Linked DNA regions of Homo sapiens. The protein of the gene in region 1 purifies or fractionates together with the protein of each later gene. This does not show direct contact. Each region holds a gene or a part of one and is shown in the gene's direction. Other genes may lie near its edges.

Region 1 (3,500 bases):
CTTAGCCTCAACCTCTCGGGCTCAGGTGATCCTCCCACCTTAGCCTCCCAAGTAGCTGGGACTACAGGCACGTGCCACTCGCCTGGCTAATTTTTGTATTTTTTGTAGAGATGGGGTTTTGCCGTGTTGCCCAGGCTGGTCTTGAACTCCTGGGCTTAAGCCTGCATTGGCCTCCCAAAGTGCTAGGATTGCAGGCATGAGCCACTGTGCCTAGCCTCGTATACTTTTTAAAAACATTTTTAAATGTTTCCAAAATTGGAGTGTAAATTAATACGTATATTCAGTTTCGGCATTCTCTATGGTACCATCCCTCTACCCCCATCTTTTCCCCTCCACCTTAAAAACCAGTGATTGTGTTAGTGATGTATATTACAATCAATGATATCATGGAATTAAGGGCATGTAGTTATGACATCAGAAGTACTAGACTGTATTTATGCTGGTACTAAGTGGTTTGAAGAATAATTTGAAGTCAGAATTTAGGATGCCAAAGCATTATGCTCATAAATCATCGTTCCATTTTCTGAAATGTAGTACTTTGGAAATATAATTCAAAGTGTGATATTCTTACAGCTAAATTGACCTTGACTATTCAACGTCCATATATAGTTTATATGCTACAAGATCTTGATATTCTTGAAGACTGGACAACAATTAGGAAGGTATGATTAATGAGCAGTGGAACACAAGTATGTTTTTATAGTCTACTTTTTAAGATTCTATGTTTTTTTTGTTAGTACATCAAAATATTATTGTAAATATGCTTTGCTTTTGCAACATTTTTCTAAGGCAATTTAATACTATTACAGATAGCAGTGAACTACAAGGATATTTTAAGAGTTAGAGACATGTCAGCAGTTTGATTGTATTTTTTCTATAATAATGTAACTAATAATTTATGGAAAAGTCCAAAAAACATTTATTTAGTCTGCCCAAAAATAATAACATCACCATCTGTGCCTAGTCCTTTGGCTGGTCCTGGCTTATAGAAAACACTTGATAAATATTTGTTGAACAAAAGAACATTTGAACCCTTATGTGTCTTGCATCCTATCATTAAACATTCAAGAATCATAGGCTTTTCTTTTCTTGCCTGAAAGTGGAGGCTTGTTTTCCATATTACATTTTTTCATTTTTGTAAATTTCTTAGTTGAGAATTAGAGATTATTTCAGGTATTGAAAACACCTCTAGGAGAAATTGTTATCCCTCATATTCTTTATGGTCTTAGACATTAAAAATTTGTTAGAGCAGCTAATGGTTATACTTTACTGTCTTTGTTATGGAGTTAATCGGTAATATTGTATATATTAAATAGATACCAAAATATATTTTCAGTCTGAACTCAGACTTCTTTCTTCCTCTTTTTTTTTTTTTTTAATTAAGGCAATGGCTACATTGGGGCCACACAGAGTGAAAACGGAACGTAAGTCATTTAGTCTGAGTTGGGAAATATTCTCTTTGGAGACTTGTTGAATCAGGGTTGTTATCTACGTACTAAAGAACTCTTGAATCAGTGGTTTTATTTCATCAGTGAACACCGTGCCTGAAATTATGAGGAATTCTTCTGGAGTCATTGCTTCACGTAAAAGTTTCAAAATTTCTGAATGTGGTATAATTATTTCAGTGTTCAGCTACATTCTTATTGCTAATAATGGATCAGTAACTCAAAAAAGTATTTATGCAGTGTTTTTTATGGGCTCTGTCATTCTATAGGGGAGGTATTTGGAATTTGTGGATTGGCTTCAGAGATTCTGTGAATCCTCTGAAATTATGTGCAAAATTCTGCATGTGCATTTTCTGAGGAGAGAGATCAGAATGCTGATATGCCTTAGTAAAATTCATATCAAGTTACACTTCCTTGATTTTTTTTTTGGAAGTCTAAAATCACTGCCAAAATGTGATGGTGTTTAGGATAAGTTTCTCTGTTTCTGCCTTCTTTCACTATAGGTGAGATTTCCTAATCCTTCTAAGGACAATGAAGCTAGACTAAAAAGAAAAACATATTTGAAATACTTAGGAAAGGAATTTCTAGTCACATTTAAACAGCTTAAGTAATCGATAAGAGACCAATTTCTGTTTAGGCTGGGCATGGTGGCTCATGCCTAGCATGATCCCAGCAATTTGGGACGCTAAGGCAGGAGGATCACTTGAGCCCAGGAGTTTGAGATCTGCCTGGGCAAGATGGCAAGACCCCATCTCTACAAAAAAATACAAAAATTAGCCAGGCTTGGCGGTGTGTACTTGTAGTCTCAGCCTCTTGGGAGGCTGAGGTGGGAGGATCACCTGAGCCCTGGAGGTCGAGGCTCCAGTGAGCCATGATCACACCACTACACTGGGCAACAGAGCAGGATTCCATCTCTAAGAAAAAAAAAATTGCATTTTATTTTTAACCCCATGATTCCTTTAAACTTTTTATTTTGTGAGGAAATTGCAGCAGTATTTGCCCTGGGGAATTAACTGCCAGAGCAGCTGCCTAGACCTGTAGAGCAGTGGTTCTTAACATTTTTGGGTAATAGATTCCTTTTGAGAATCTCATTATCATAGTTGAGTGTGTCTCCCTCCCACTCTTATCTTCAGCATTGTATCCTATTAGTTTTACTCATAGCACTTCACTCAATTTGTACTTTTTAATTTTGTCTATCTCCTGACTGGATTGTAAGCTCCACAAAGGCTAGAACCATATCTCTTTTGGTCACAGTTTTTTCCCCAGCATACTTCCTTGTGTATAGGAAGTGTTCAGACAACATTTGTTGAATGAATGAATGAATGAATGAATGAATATACCCGATGGTATTTTAGGCCCTGAGAATACAATGGTAAAAGAAATATGGATCTCCTGGAGCCTCTTTAGGGGAGGTGGAATCATATATATGTAGATAAACAGTTAAGAAGATAGTTACAGATTATAATAATTACTCTAAAAGAACTGTGCAGTTGATATAACAATTAGCTGAGGAGTGGGTAGAGTAGTTAGGGAAGACCTCTCAGGAGCTGACATTTGAATGACTTCATGGTATGCTTTTGACACTGTGTTTCCATAAAAAAGATTTTTTTTTCCTGTATGAGTTATCTGACTAATGCCAGATGATTTCTGGAATTTAAAAATAGAAGTTGTACTTAGGACATTTCCTTTTTAGAATTAAAAGCCTGGGGAATGCTTGGAACATGTATTAAACTCTGCTTCTTTCGGTATATCAGATGCCCGCAGGGGAAAAAATAAAAAGTATAATTTTCAATTGAAATATGGCAATTGATATTTTAAATACTACTTAAAATTCACACTAGTAATTGATAACATACCTGCTTCCCCTTCTGGTACTTAATTAGTCAATTGATGATTTATTGTTCATTGTTTAGCTTTGTTTAGTAGTTATATTAAAAACTTAGTGATTATGTAAAAGAATGTAAGGAATAAATCTTTTTATTACATTTTAGGTTTGTTATTTAAGAAATATTTTTAGGCCTTTTTTACATATGCATGGATTGATGTTAATTGTTA
Region 2 (3,500 bases), on another chromosome or scaffold:
TATATGTAGTACATGGGACTTTTCTAACTTCCAAATAGGTTCAGCTCTTAAACTTATCATTTGAAACAAGATGTTTAGAATCTAGAGCATTTTTTGTCATTGAAACAATGGCAAAGTAGGTTTAAGTTTACAAAGTAGGTTTAAGTTTCTATGATAGCCCCTGCCCCAAATCTATTTAACCCTACCACTGAAATTCTGTTTTTGCAATAGTAGGAAAGAAACATTACAGTACCAATAAATATACTAAAGATTAATAATAGCTAGGAACAGCTTTTAATTTATCTAGCATGCTAGTGCTTGAAGAAATCCAGATTTAATTAGAGAGATTTTTTTTTCTTCTGGAAATCTAAAAGAGTCTTCTGGGGGACTTCAGAGGTCAGTTGTATTGAGTTTTTATTACATATAATATAACATTAAGTATATGAACTTCCTTTTCCTTCATACCAGCATGATATTACTATTACTCTGAACATTTAGCACATAAATTTAGGGCATTTGGAGGCTTAGGGGAAAAAATAGATTGAAGAGAGAAATTTTAGCATCAAGAGTTGAATGAAAAGAATGTAAAAGGGTATGTGCAGAGAGATTTTTAAGAAGAATTTTTTTCAGAAGATAGGCAGGGAGATAACATCGGTGTATGTGAAGTTGCAAGAAAAAAATGTGATTTAAAAAGATGATCCTGTCAGACTTTCTTTCAAATTTGACACCAAGCCAGGTGGCATGACTAGCTCAGGACTATTTAATTGCTGCCTGCCAGGTTGGGGGCCATGTCACAGGGTGAGGAGATTGCAATGAGTTTGTTGTAGTTGGTTACAGTAAGAGAAGAAATGTGTACAATTGACCACCCATGAATATACAGTATCCTGTACATAGCAAGTGTTTAAATATTTGTTGAATGAATATGTGAGTGAATGAGTAAATGAACACAGGTGCTTATAAAAATCAGAGTGCTCACATACCTTTCTTGATAGGCTCTAAAAATGAAAAGCTTGAGGATGTGGAGTATGTCATTAAAAGGCCTTTCATTGAAGTCATGTGACATATTAATACAGCCAGATTATTTGGCTCATCTATAAAATTTGGTTGAGTGACTTGGAATGTTTTTCAGTGTGTATGCAATTAAAATCCCAATGAGGTTTTTTTTTTTTTTTTTATGAGAAAAGGGTATTCCAAGTAAGTTTAAAAACACACTACTGGTCATTGGAAATACCGTAAGATGATTAGTGAGTGATTCCAAAAGCAAATGACAATTTCAAGAGAAATGGCTGCTCCATAGAAAAAAATTTGAACAACCTGTTCATAATAGCTTGGGTTTTTTGTTTATTTGTTTGTTTTTGAGATGGAGTCTCACTTAATCGCCCAGGCTGGAGTGCAGTGGCGCGATCTCGGCTCACTGCAACCTCCACTTTCCGGGTTCAAGCAATTCTCCCGCCTCAGCTTCCCGAGTAGCTGCGATTACAGGCACGCACCACCATGTGCAGCTAATTTTTGTATTTTTAGTAGAGATGAGGTTTCACCATGTTGGCCAGGCTGGTCTCAAACTCCCAACCTCAGGCAATCTGCCCACCTCAGCCTCCCAAAGTGCTGGGATTACAGTGTGAGCCACTGTGCCTGGCCCATAATTGTTTTCGCATGCTAGGAAGCTATATTCACTGTTTATATATTACTCTCTCCTGTGTCACTTTATGTGTTTGGTCCCTTTTCTATCATGTTTGAGTAAAAAGCCTAGCTTAAATCAGTATCTGCATCATCTTTTGAAATCCTAGTCATTTGGGATGGATCGTAAGACTCCGTACTATTTCATGAAGGAAAATTGCTAACCTAAAACCTTGTTTTGAGGTCTTATTTTTAAGTGAAAAGTTAGTAGTATTTAATAATTTAACATATTATATATATAAGATTAATCTGAATCTTAATTTTAAGAAGTACAAGCTCATTGTATTCTTTCCTATTAATTCCTTATTCTACAATTCCTTGGATTTATTTGCTTAAATGATAGGATTTTAAAGAAATAACTCTGTTTTTCAGCTGTATTTTGGGAACGTTGCAATGAATTACAGGACATTGAGAAAATTATGGCTCAAATTGAACGTGGAGAAGCAAGAATTCAACGAAGGATCAGTATCAAGAAAGCCCTGGATGCCAAAGTACTATGTTTTATGTCAAATTATTATTAGATCGTTTTAATTGAAATAGTGGTCAGCTTTGACTTCTTACTGCACATTCAATTAAAAGCACTATTTTGTTTAAATACACAGATTGCAAGATACAAGGCTCCATTTCATCAGTTGCGCATTCAGTATGGAACCAGCAAAGGAAAGAACTATACTGAGGAAGAAGATAGATTCTTGATTTGTATGTTACACAAAATGGGCTTTGATAGAGAAAATGTATATGAAGAATTAAGACAGTGTGTACGAAATGCTCCCCAGTTTAGATTTGACTGGTTTATCAAGTCTAGGACTGCCATGGTATGTATTCCTTTCTTACCGATTTCCTCCAACTTTTTATTTTGAAAAATTTCAGATGCCATATATCCTTCACCTAGATTCTCCAATTAACATTTTGACACATTGGCGCTCTCTCTTTCTCTCTCTCTGTGTGTATGTGTATACATACGTAGCACCTATATATACGTGCAGAATCTATATTTTGTATTAAAAAATACGGGGACATCTATATTCTATATTCTGAAATGCGTATCTATATTTTATAAGTATACTTAACTATATTTATGAACCATTTGAAAATTACAGACAATGTGAGTGTTCATCTCTAAATACTTAAGCATGTATCTCCTAAGAATAATGACATTTTCTTACATAACCACAATCCCACCTGAAAACATTGATTCAGTAATGTCATTTAGTATACAGTCTATGTATAAGCTTTTCCAGTTGCCCCCAAAATGCCCCCTTTATAGCTGTTTTTTTTAAAATTGATGATCCTGCAAGTTTCACACATTACATTTCGTTGTTGGGTCTCTTTAATCTCTTTTAATCCACAACCTTTTGGTTTTCGTGATCATGACTTTTTAAAGGTGTCCAGGCTAGTTGTCTTGTAGAATGTCCCACATTGTGGATTTACCTCATTACTCATTGTAAGATTCAGGTTCAACGTATTTGGCAAGAGTGCTGTGGAAGTGATGTTATGTATTTTTTATTGCATCCCATCAGAAGGCACATTATGTCATGTTGTCACACTGTTGGTGATGCTAAGTTTGGTCACTTGTTAATGTGATGATCTTCAGAGCTCTCCGCTTTAGAGTTATGTTTTCCCCTTTGTAATTAAGCAGGTTATGCTTGAGACTATGCGAATGACTTAAAGATGGACTTTTAATGAAAAGGAGTTGTTGCCTAAGTTGAGTTTTTTATTAGGAAACAGAATATTTAAGTTGAAGAGATATTTTATTTTAGCTTATGTGATTTCCTCCATTACTTTCTAATGTGAATTGTGTTCCTATTCTAGTCCTACTTAGCAGTGGTGTTCATGATGATTTT
Region 3 (3,500 bases), on another chromosome or scaffold:
GGATTTGCTGGGTCAATAGGGTATTTGTATGTTTAACTTTATGGGATACTTGGCCAGACTGACTTCCAAAGTACTTTTATACTCACATCAACAGTGTATTAGAATTTTCGTTATTCCATATCCTCACCAACATTTTATGTTGTCAGTTTTTAAAGTTTTAGGCATTCTACTGGGTTTATAGTAGTATTTCTTTGTTAATAGTACTTCATAGTGGTTGTAAAGATTAAATAGGTTTTAATTGTCTTTTCCCTCATAACTAATGCTATTAAGGATTGTTTTTTTAATGTGGTTATCGACTATCTCCTTTTGGACTCATGTATTCACATCTTTTGCCCATTTTAAAATTAGGTTATTTGTCTTTTTGTTATTAGTTGTAGGTGTTATTTACCTACATATTCTGGATGAGTCCTTTATGCAGATTACATGTTTTGTGCACATTTTTCTCTCAGTTTGTGGTTTGCCTGTTCATATTCTCAACTTTTTTTGTATAACTGGAAGTTTTTAGTTTTAATCATGTCCAGTTTATTAATTTTAAAAATTTCTATTAGTGTTTTCTGGTTCATGCCTAATATCTTTGTCTACCCCAAGGAGATCATGAAGCTCTCCTAATGTTTTCTTCTGGAAGGTTTTTAGTTTTAGCTTATTAAAATTATGTCCATGATCCATCTCATGTTATTTTTCATGTCCAATATGAGGAAAGGGATTAAGGTTTGTTGTTCCATGTGGATATCCACTTGTTTCAGTATAATTTGTGTGAATGCCTTGGTGCGTTTTTAACAAAAAAATATTGAACTTACACGTGTGGATCTACATCTGGACTTTTCTCATTCATTGTCTGTTTTTCTGTCAATATCGTACTGTCTGGATTAGTGTAACTTTCTATTGATTCCTGGTAGTGTGAGTCCCACATCTTTATTTTTTAAAGATTGTTTCGATTATTCTTGACCTTATTTCTGTATACATTTTGGAATCAGGTGGTTAATTTCTATTTAAAAAGTTCTGACTAATCTTAAGATTACATTGAATCTAAAATTGAATGTGGGGAGAATTGCTATCTTAATAACATTGAGCCTTCCAGTATATGAACATGATGTATTTCTGTATTCTAGAAATGTTTCAGGTTTTCAGTCTTGCATGTATTTTGTTAAATTTATCTGAGTAAATCTACATCTTTTGATTTTTGATGCTCTTAAAAATGGTATACTTTTTTATTTATTTATTTTTGTATGTGTGACATGTTCTCACTTTGTCACCGAGGATGGAGTGCAGTAGCGTGATCTCCACTCACTGCAACCTCTGCCTCCGAGCTCAAGTGATCCTCTTACCACAGCTTCCCGAGTAGCTGGGACTCCGCATACACCACCATGCCTGGCTAATTTTTGTATTTTTTGTAGAGACAGGGTTTCGCCTTGTTACCCAGACTGGTCTTGAACTTCTGGGTTCGAGTGATCTGCCCACCTAGGCCTCCCAAAGTGCTATTACAGATGTGAGCCACTGTGCCTGACCTAAAAATGATATACTTTAAACATTTTCTCTTCCAATTGCTTGTTTTATGTGTGTGCATGTGCATATGCATGGACACACAATGGCACAGTTTGTGTAATTGTTTTGTATTCTGCAACCTTGCTAAATTCACTTATTATTGTAGTTTTTTGTATTCTGGGCTTTTTCTGAGAGAGTGGCTCACTCCATTGCCAAGGCTGGAGTAGAGTGGCGTGATTGTGGCTCACTATAGCCTTGACTTCCCAGGCTCAAGCGAACCTCCCACCTCAGCCTCCTGAATAGCTGGGACTATAGGTGCGTGCCACCATGCTTGGCAAAATTTTTTTTTTTTTCTAGGGACAGGGCCTCACTATATTGCCCATGCTGGTCTTGAACTCCTGGGCTCAAGCAATCCTCTTGCCTCAGCTTCCCAAAGTGCTAGGGTTGCAGACATAAGCCACCACACCCAGCTATAGGATTTTTTTTTTTAGATGTAGATTATTTCAGATTTCCTGCACACAAACATTACCTGTTAATGAAGAAAGTCACAGTTTTTCTTTGCCTTATACAGTTGTCCATTGGTATCTTCAGGGATTTGGTTCCACGATCCCCCGTGAATACCAAAATCTGCCGATGATCCGGTCCATTATACAAAATGCCATAGTGTGGCTGGGCATGGTGGCTCACATCTGTAATCTAGCACTTTGGGAGGTTGAGGCAGGCAGATTGCTTGAGCCCAGGAGTTTGAGACCAGCCTGAGCAACATGGCAGAACCCCATCTCTACAAAAAATACAAGAATTAGCCAGGCATGATGGTGTGCATCTGTAGTTGCTACTCAGGAGGCTGAGGTGGGAGGATCTGCCTGAGCCCAAGAGTTCTAGGCTGCAGTGAGCTGTGATTGTGCCACTGCACTCCAGTGTGAGTGACAGAGTGAGACCCTGTCTTGATAGATAGATAGCCATATAGCCGGGCATGGTGGCTCACGCCTGTAATACCAGCACTTTGGGAGGCTGAGGCAAGAGTTCGAGAAGACAAGCCTGGTCAACATGGTGAAATTCCGTCTCTACTAAAAATACAAAAATTAGCTGGGCGTGATGGCACACACCTGTAATCCCAGCTACTTGGGAGGCTGAGGCAGGAGAATTGCTTGAGCCCAGGAGGTGGAGGTTGCAGTGAGCCGAGATTGTGCCACTGCACTCCAGCCTGGGCGACAAAGCAAGACTGTGTCTCGGGGGGGAAAAACAGCCATATAGTACAGTCAGCTCTTTGTATCTGCAGATTCTGTGTTTGAGGATTCAGCCAATCTCATGTTGATCCGTAATTGGTTGAATCAGTGGATGTGGAACCTGCATATGTGGAGAGCCACTTGTGTTTCATTTTCTTGCCTTACTGCACTGGCCAGAACCTCTATTACAATGTCAAATGGAAGTGATAGAGTAGACATCCTTGCCTTATTCCCAATTGAAGAAGGAAAATTTTGAGCCTTTCACCATTCACTATGATGTTAGCTGTAGGTTTTTCATATGTGCCCTTTATCAGGTTGAGGAAGTTTCCTTCTATTCCTAGTTTGGTGAGAGTTTTTATTATGAAAGTGTTACCTTCTAATGCTTTTTCTTTATCAAGATAATCATAAGATTTTTCTCCTTTAATTCTGATAATGTGGTGAATTACATTGATGAGGTTTTAAGTGTTAAATTAGCCTTGCATGCCAGTATATTATCCTTTTTCTGCTTTGCTAGATTTGACTTGGCAATGTTTTGTTAAGACTCTTTGTTCATGACAGGTAATGGTTTCTTTTTTCATACGTCTTTGCTTGATTTTGGTATCAAGGTTTCCTGGCCTCATAAAATGAGTTGGGAACTGTTTCTTCTCTATCTTCTGGAAGAATTTGTATAAGACTGCATTATTCCTTTAAATGTTCAGTAGCATTCACCAGTGAAGTTTTATGTGCCTTGAGTTTTCTTTGTTGGAAGGTTTTTAACTATACATCTAATAAATAGATTTAATACTGTTCTGA
Region 4 (3,500 bases), on another chromosome or scaffold:
CTGTCAAGTCGCACTGCTGGCCCCCCACTCACCCTGAGCTCTTCCTCATAGCCCCTATGCAGCCCTGAGTCCAAGCTCAGTGGCGGTGACCCCCAAAGACCAGAACCAGCTGGTTCCAAAAGATGGAAGTTTGTGGCTGGAGGAGCTAGTGTTTTGGAAGCTGTCATGATGATTTTTCAGTCTACGGCTATTAAACTCATGACTTGTCCGATCTTTTTTCTTTGACTCTGCTCATCTCCCACCTCCCCCTGGGAGTTGCTCACTCTCAGCAGTGAATTATTGTTTCCCGTGCAGTGATGGTGGGGAGGGGGAGGTTTGCCCTGGCCAGCTCTGGCATTGAGGCAGGTGTCTGAGCCAGCTTCTAGGAGGAAGGCAGGGCGGGTGCCTCTTCTGGTTGGGGGACCAGCAGTTGCCAGATTCTCCTGGGAGTTGGGGTGGCTGGTTGAAGCCAGGGGTCAAGAGCTGGTGGGATGAGGCCTTGGCTTCTAGCTCTGAGCATTAGCTGAGTGGTCTTGGACAAGCCAGGCAGCCCTCTCCTCGGTGTGCCCACTTGTAGTATGGGGACATAGCACTGGCTACCTCATAGAGGGTTATTATGAGGAACAGTGAGACAGTGCATGTGGAACATTAGGCCACAGTGCCCAGCACATGATAGGTGCTCAATAAACTGTGGCTGGTGTAGTTAGCACCAGCCAAGGAGGGCAGCTGTCCTGCCTTCTCCAAGGAAATGCTTCTGATACTTGCATCCTTAGCCAGTAAGCTCAGGGGAGTAGGAGCCTGGGTGGGAGGAGGGCTGTGAAGCCCAAGGTAGGGGTGGCAGGAAGCAGGAGAGGGCTTCAGAAAATGTGGCTCTCAGCCCTCTTAGGGCCACTGCTGGGCTGGCAAATTCCCTGCCTCATTGGCCCAGCTTTTCCTCAATCACAGACAAAGCTAGTGAGCCCAGAATGGGCAATGTCTGGACTAGGCACCGTTACCTCTCTGGCCCCAGTGACAATTGGCCCTAGATGTGTAAGTATCTTAGGCTTGCTTCCTCAGGTCCAGGGGCCAGGAGAGAGTGACAGTCATGATTCCCAAAAGGCCATGACATTTTAGCCTGCACCCCTACCCCTGTGGAAGCATGGTTTGGTAGGGGGGTCCCAGGGAGCCTGATTGTATTTAACATTCTTTTCTGGGAGGAGGGAGACAAAATGACCAGCACACTTTGCCCAGTGGCTTGGCCAGTGGGTTATTCATTGTCATTCCAAGTTGATCAGGTAATAGGATCCATCTATCATTTTATCAGTTCATTCAGTCGCTCACCCATCATCCATCCATCCATCTACCTACCCACCCACATCTACCCATCCACCTACAAAACCAACCAAGTAACCGTTCACCATCCGCCTATCAATCCATATCCATACCATATCCATCCATCCATCTGTTCTTCCTATCCACTATTCATCCATGCACTATTCGTCCATGCTTCCCACCATCCATCCATCCATCCATGCATCCATGTATCCATGTATCTACCTGCTCTCCCACATCTACCCGTCGACCCACAAAACCAACCAAGTAACCATTCACCATCCACCTATCTATCCATATGTATATCCATCCGTCCGTCCGTCCATCCATCCATCCATCCATCCATCCATTTGTTCTTGTTCTTCTTATCCACTATTCATCCATGCACTATCTGTCCATGCTTCCCACCATTCATTCATCCATCCTCCAATCCATCCATCCACCATTCATTCATCTGTCCATCCACCATCCACCCATCCACCATCCATCCATCTGCCCATCCACCATCCATCCATCTGCCCATCCACCATTCATGCTTCCATCCATTCATCCACCACCCACCATCCATCCATTCCTGTACCCACCATTCATCCATCTATCCACCCGTCATCCATCCATTCATCTATCCACCATCCATCCATGCATCCATCCACCATCCATCCATGCATCCATCCACCATCCACTCATCCATTCATCCACCATCCATTCATCCATCCACCATCCATTCATTCATCCATCCACCATCCATCCATGCATCCATCCATCCATCCACCCACCATCCATCCATCAATCCACAATCCAACCACGCATCCAACCACCATCCACTCATCCATTCATCCACCACTCATTCATCCACCCACCATCCGCCCACCATCCATCCATCTGCCATCCATCCATCCACCTATTGTCCATCTATTCATCAATCCACCATCCATCCATGCATCCATCCACCATCCACTCATCCATTCATCCACCATTCATCCACCCACCATCCATCCATCATCCATCCATTATCCATTCAGCCATCCATCTGCCATCCATCCATCCATCCATCCATCCTTCATCCACCATCCATCCATCCACCCACCCACCATCCATCCTTCATCCACCATCCATCCATCCACCCACCCACCATCTATCCATCCATCTATCCATTCATCTTTCATCCATCCATCCGTCATTCATCCATTCATCCATTTATCCATCCGTCCATCCTCCATCTTCCATCCACCATTCATCCATCCACCCACCATCTATCCATCAATTCATCATCCATCCATCAATTCACCATCTATCCACTTATTCACCATCCATCCACCATCCATTCATCCATCCACCCATCCACCATCCATCCTTCCACCCACCGTCTATCCATCAATTCATCATCCATCCATCTATTCACCATCTATCCACCATCCATTCGTCCATCCACCCATCCACCATCCATCCACTATCCACCCATCCACCATCCGTCCAGTGTCCATCCATCTGCCATCCATCCATCCATCCATCCATCCACCCACCATCCATCCATCTATCCATCCATCTACCCACCATCTATCCATCAATTCATCATCCATCAATCTATTCACCATCCATCCACCATGCATTCATCCATCCACCTATCCACCATCCATCCATTCACTATACAATTATCCGTCCACCCATCAGAGACTTCTGGAATATCTTCTCTGAGCTGGGTACTGAACACAATGTGTGTTGTCTAACTTTCTGGGCTTTTGCTTATCTCTGTGGCTCTGTCCTTATTTCACTCTCCTTCCCTGTCTCTCTCTCTCCCTCTGTCCCCATATCTGTCAGTTTTCGTCTCCCCTGAGGTCATGCCCCTGCCTCTCCCTTTCTGTCTGGCCGTTTTTCTCTCTTTTGTCCCTCCCTGTCCCCCCAGGTTGACTTCCCCTCTCACCATTCTGTCCTCCTCCTCCCCACCCATGCCCTGGGCCTCTCCCTGCTTTCCCTGCACCCCCAGGGTGACTCCCCCCAGGCCCCAGTCACTTGGGGTAAATGCCTCATCTATCCCCGTCTCTTCCCTCCACTCCCCACTCAGGACTGATGCTTTCTTTTGATGTGACACCAATGAGGTGATGTCTGGGTTTTGTTAAATGTCATAAATAAATTATGAATCCTCTCTTGGGCGGTGTACTGCCCCCCTTTGCCAGCATAAGCCCTGTCTCATGGGGGGAGGTTCGAGGACT

Evidence for each region.
Region 2: the proteins of BRMS1L (region 1) and SMARCA1 purify together in Homo sapiens (affinity purification with mass spectrometry, with the first as the bait; one large-scale study listed by BioGRID). This does not show direct contact.
Region 3: the proteins of BRMS1L (region 1) and HAT1 purify together in Homo sapiens (affinity purification with mass spectrometry, with the first as the bait; one large-scale study listed by BioGRID). This does not show direct contact.
Region 4: the proteins of BRMS1L (region 1) and CHD5 purify together in Homo sapiens (affinity purification with mass spectrometry, with the first as the bait; one large-scale study listed by BioGRID). This does not show direct contact.

What each region holds. Positions count from the first base shown.
Region 1 is NC_000014.9:35,864,338-35,867,837, forward strand, and holds part of BRMS1L (breast cancer metastasis-suppressor 1-like protein), read left to right. Parts: intron 1-597; coding exon 598-662; intron 663-1,384; coding exon 1,385-1,424; intron 1,425-3,500. UniProt on the Homo sapiens protein: Involved in the histone deacetylase (HDAC1)-dependent transcriptional repression activity. When overexpressed in lung cancer cell line that lacks p53/TP53 expression, inhibits cell growth.
Region 2 is NC_000023.11:129,464,491-129,467,990, reverse strand, and holds part of SMARCA1 (SWI/SNF-related matrix-associated actin-dependent regulator of chromatin subfamily A member 1), read left to right. Parts: intron 1-2,028; coding exon 2,029-2,147; intron 2,148-2,258; coding exon 2,259-2,471; intron 2,472-3,500.
Region 3 is NC_000002.12:171,928,961-171,932,460, forward strand, and holds part of HAT1 (histone acetyltransferase type B catalytic subunit), read left to right. Parts: intron 1-3,500. UniProt on the Homo sapiens protein: Histone acetyltransferase that plays a role in different biological processes including cell cycle progression, glucose metabolism, histone production or DNA damage repair. Coordinates histone production and acetylation via H4 promoter binding.
Region 4 is NC_000001.11:6,173,822-6,177,321, reverse strand, and holds part of CHD5 (chromodomain-helicase-DNA-binding protein 5), read left to right. Parts: intron 1-3,500. UniProt on the Homo sapiens protein: ATP-dependent chromatin-remodeling factor that binds DNA through histones and regulates gene transcription. May specifically recognize and bind trimethylated 'Lys-27' (H3K27me3) and non-methylated 'Lys-4' of histone H3.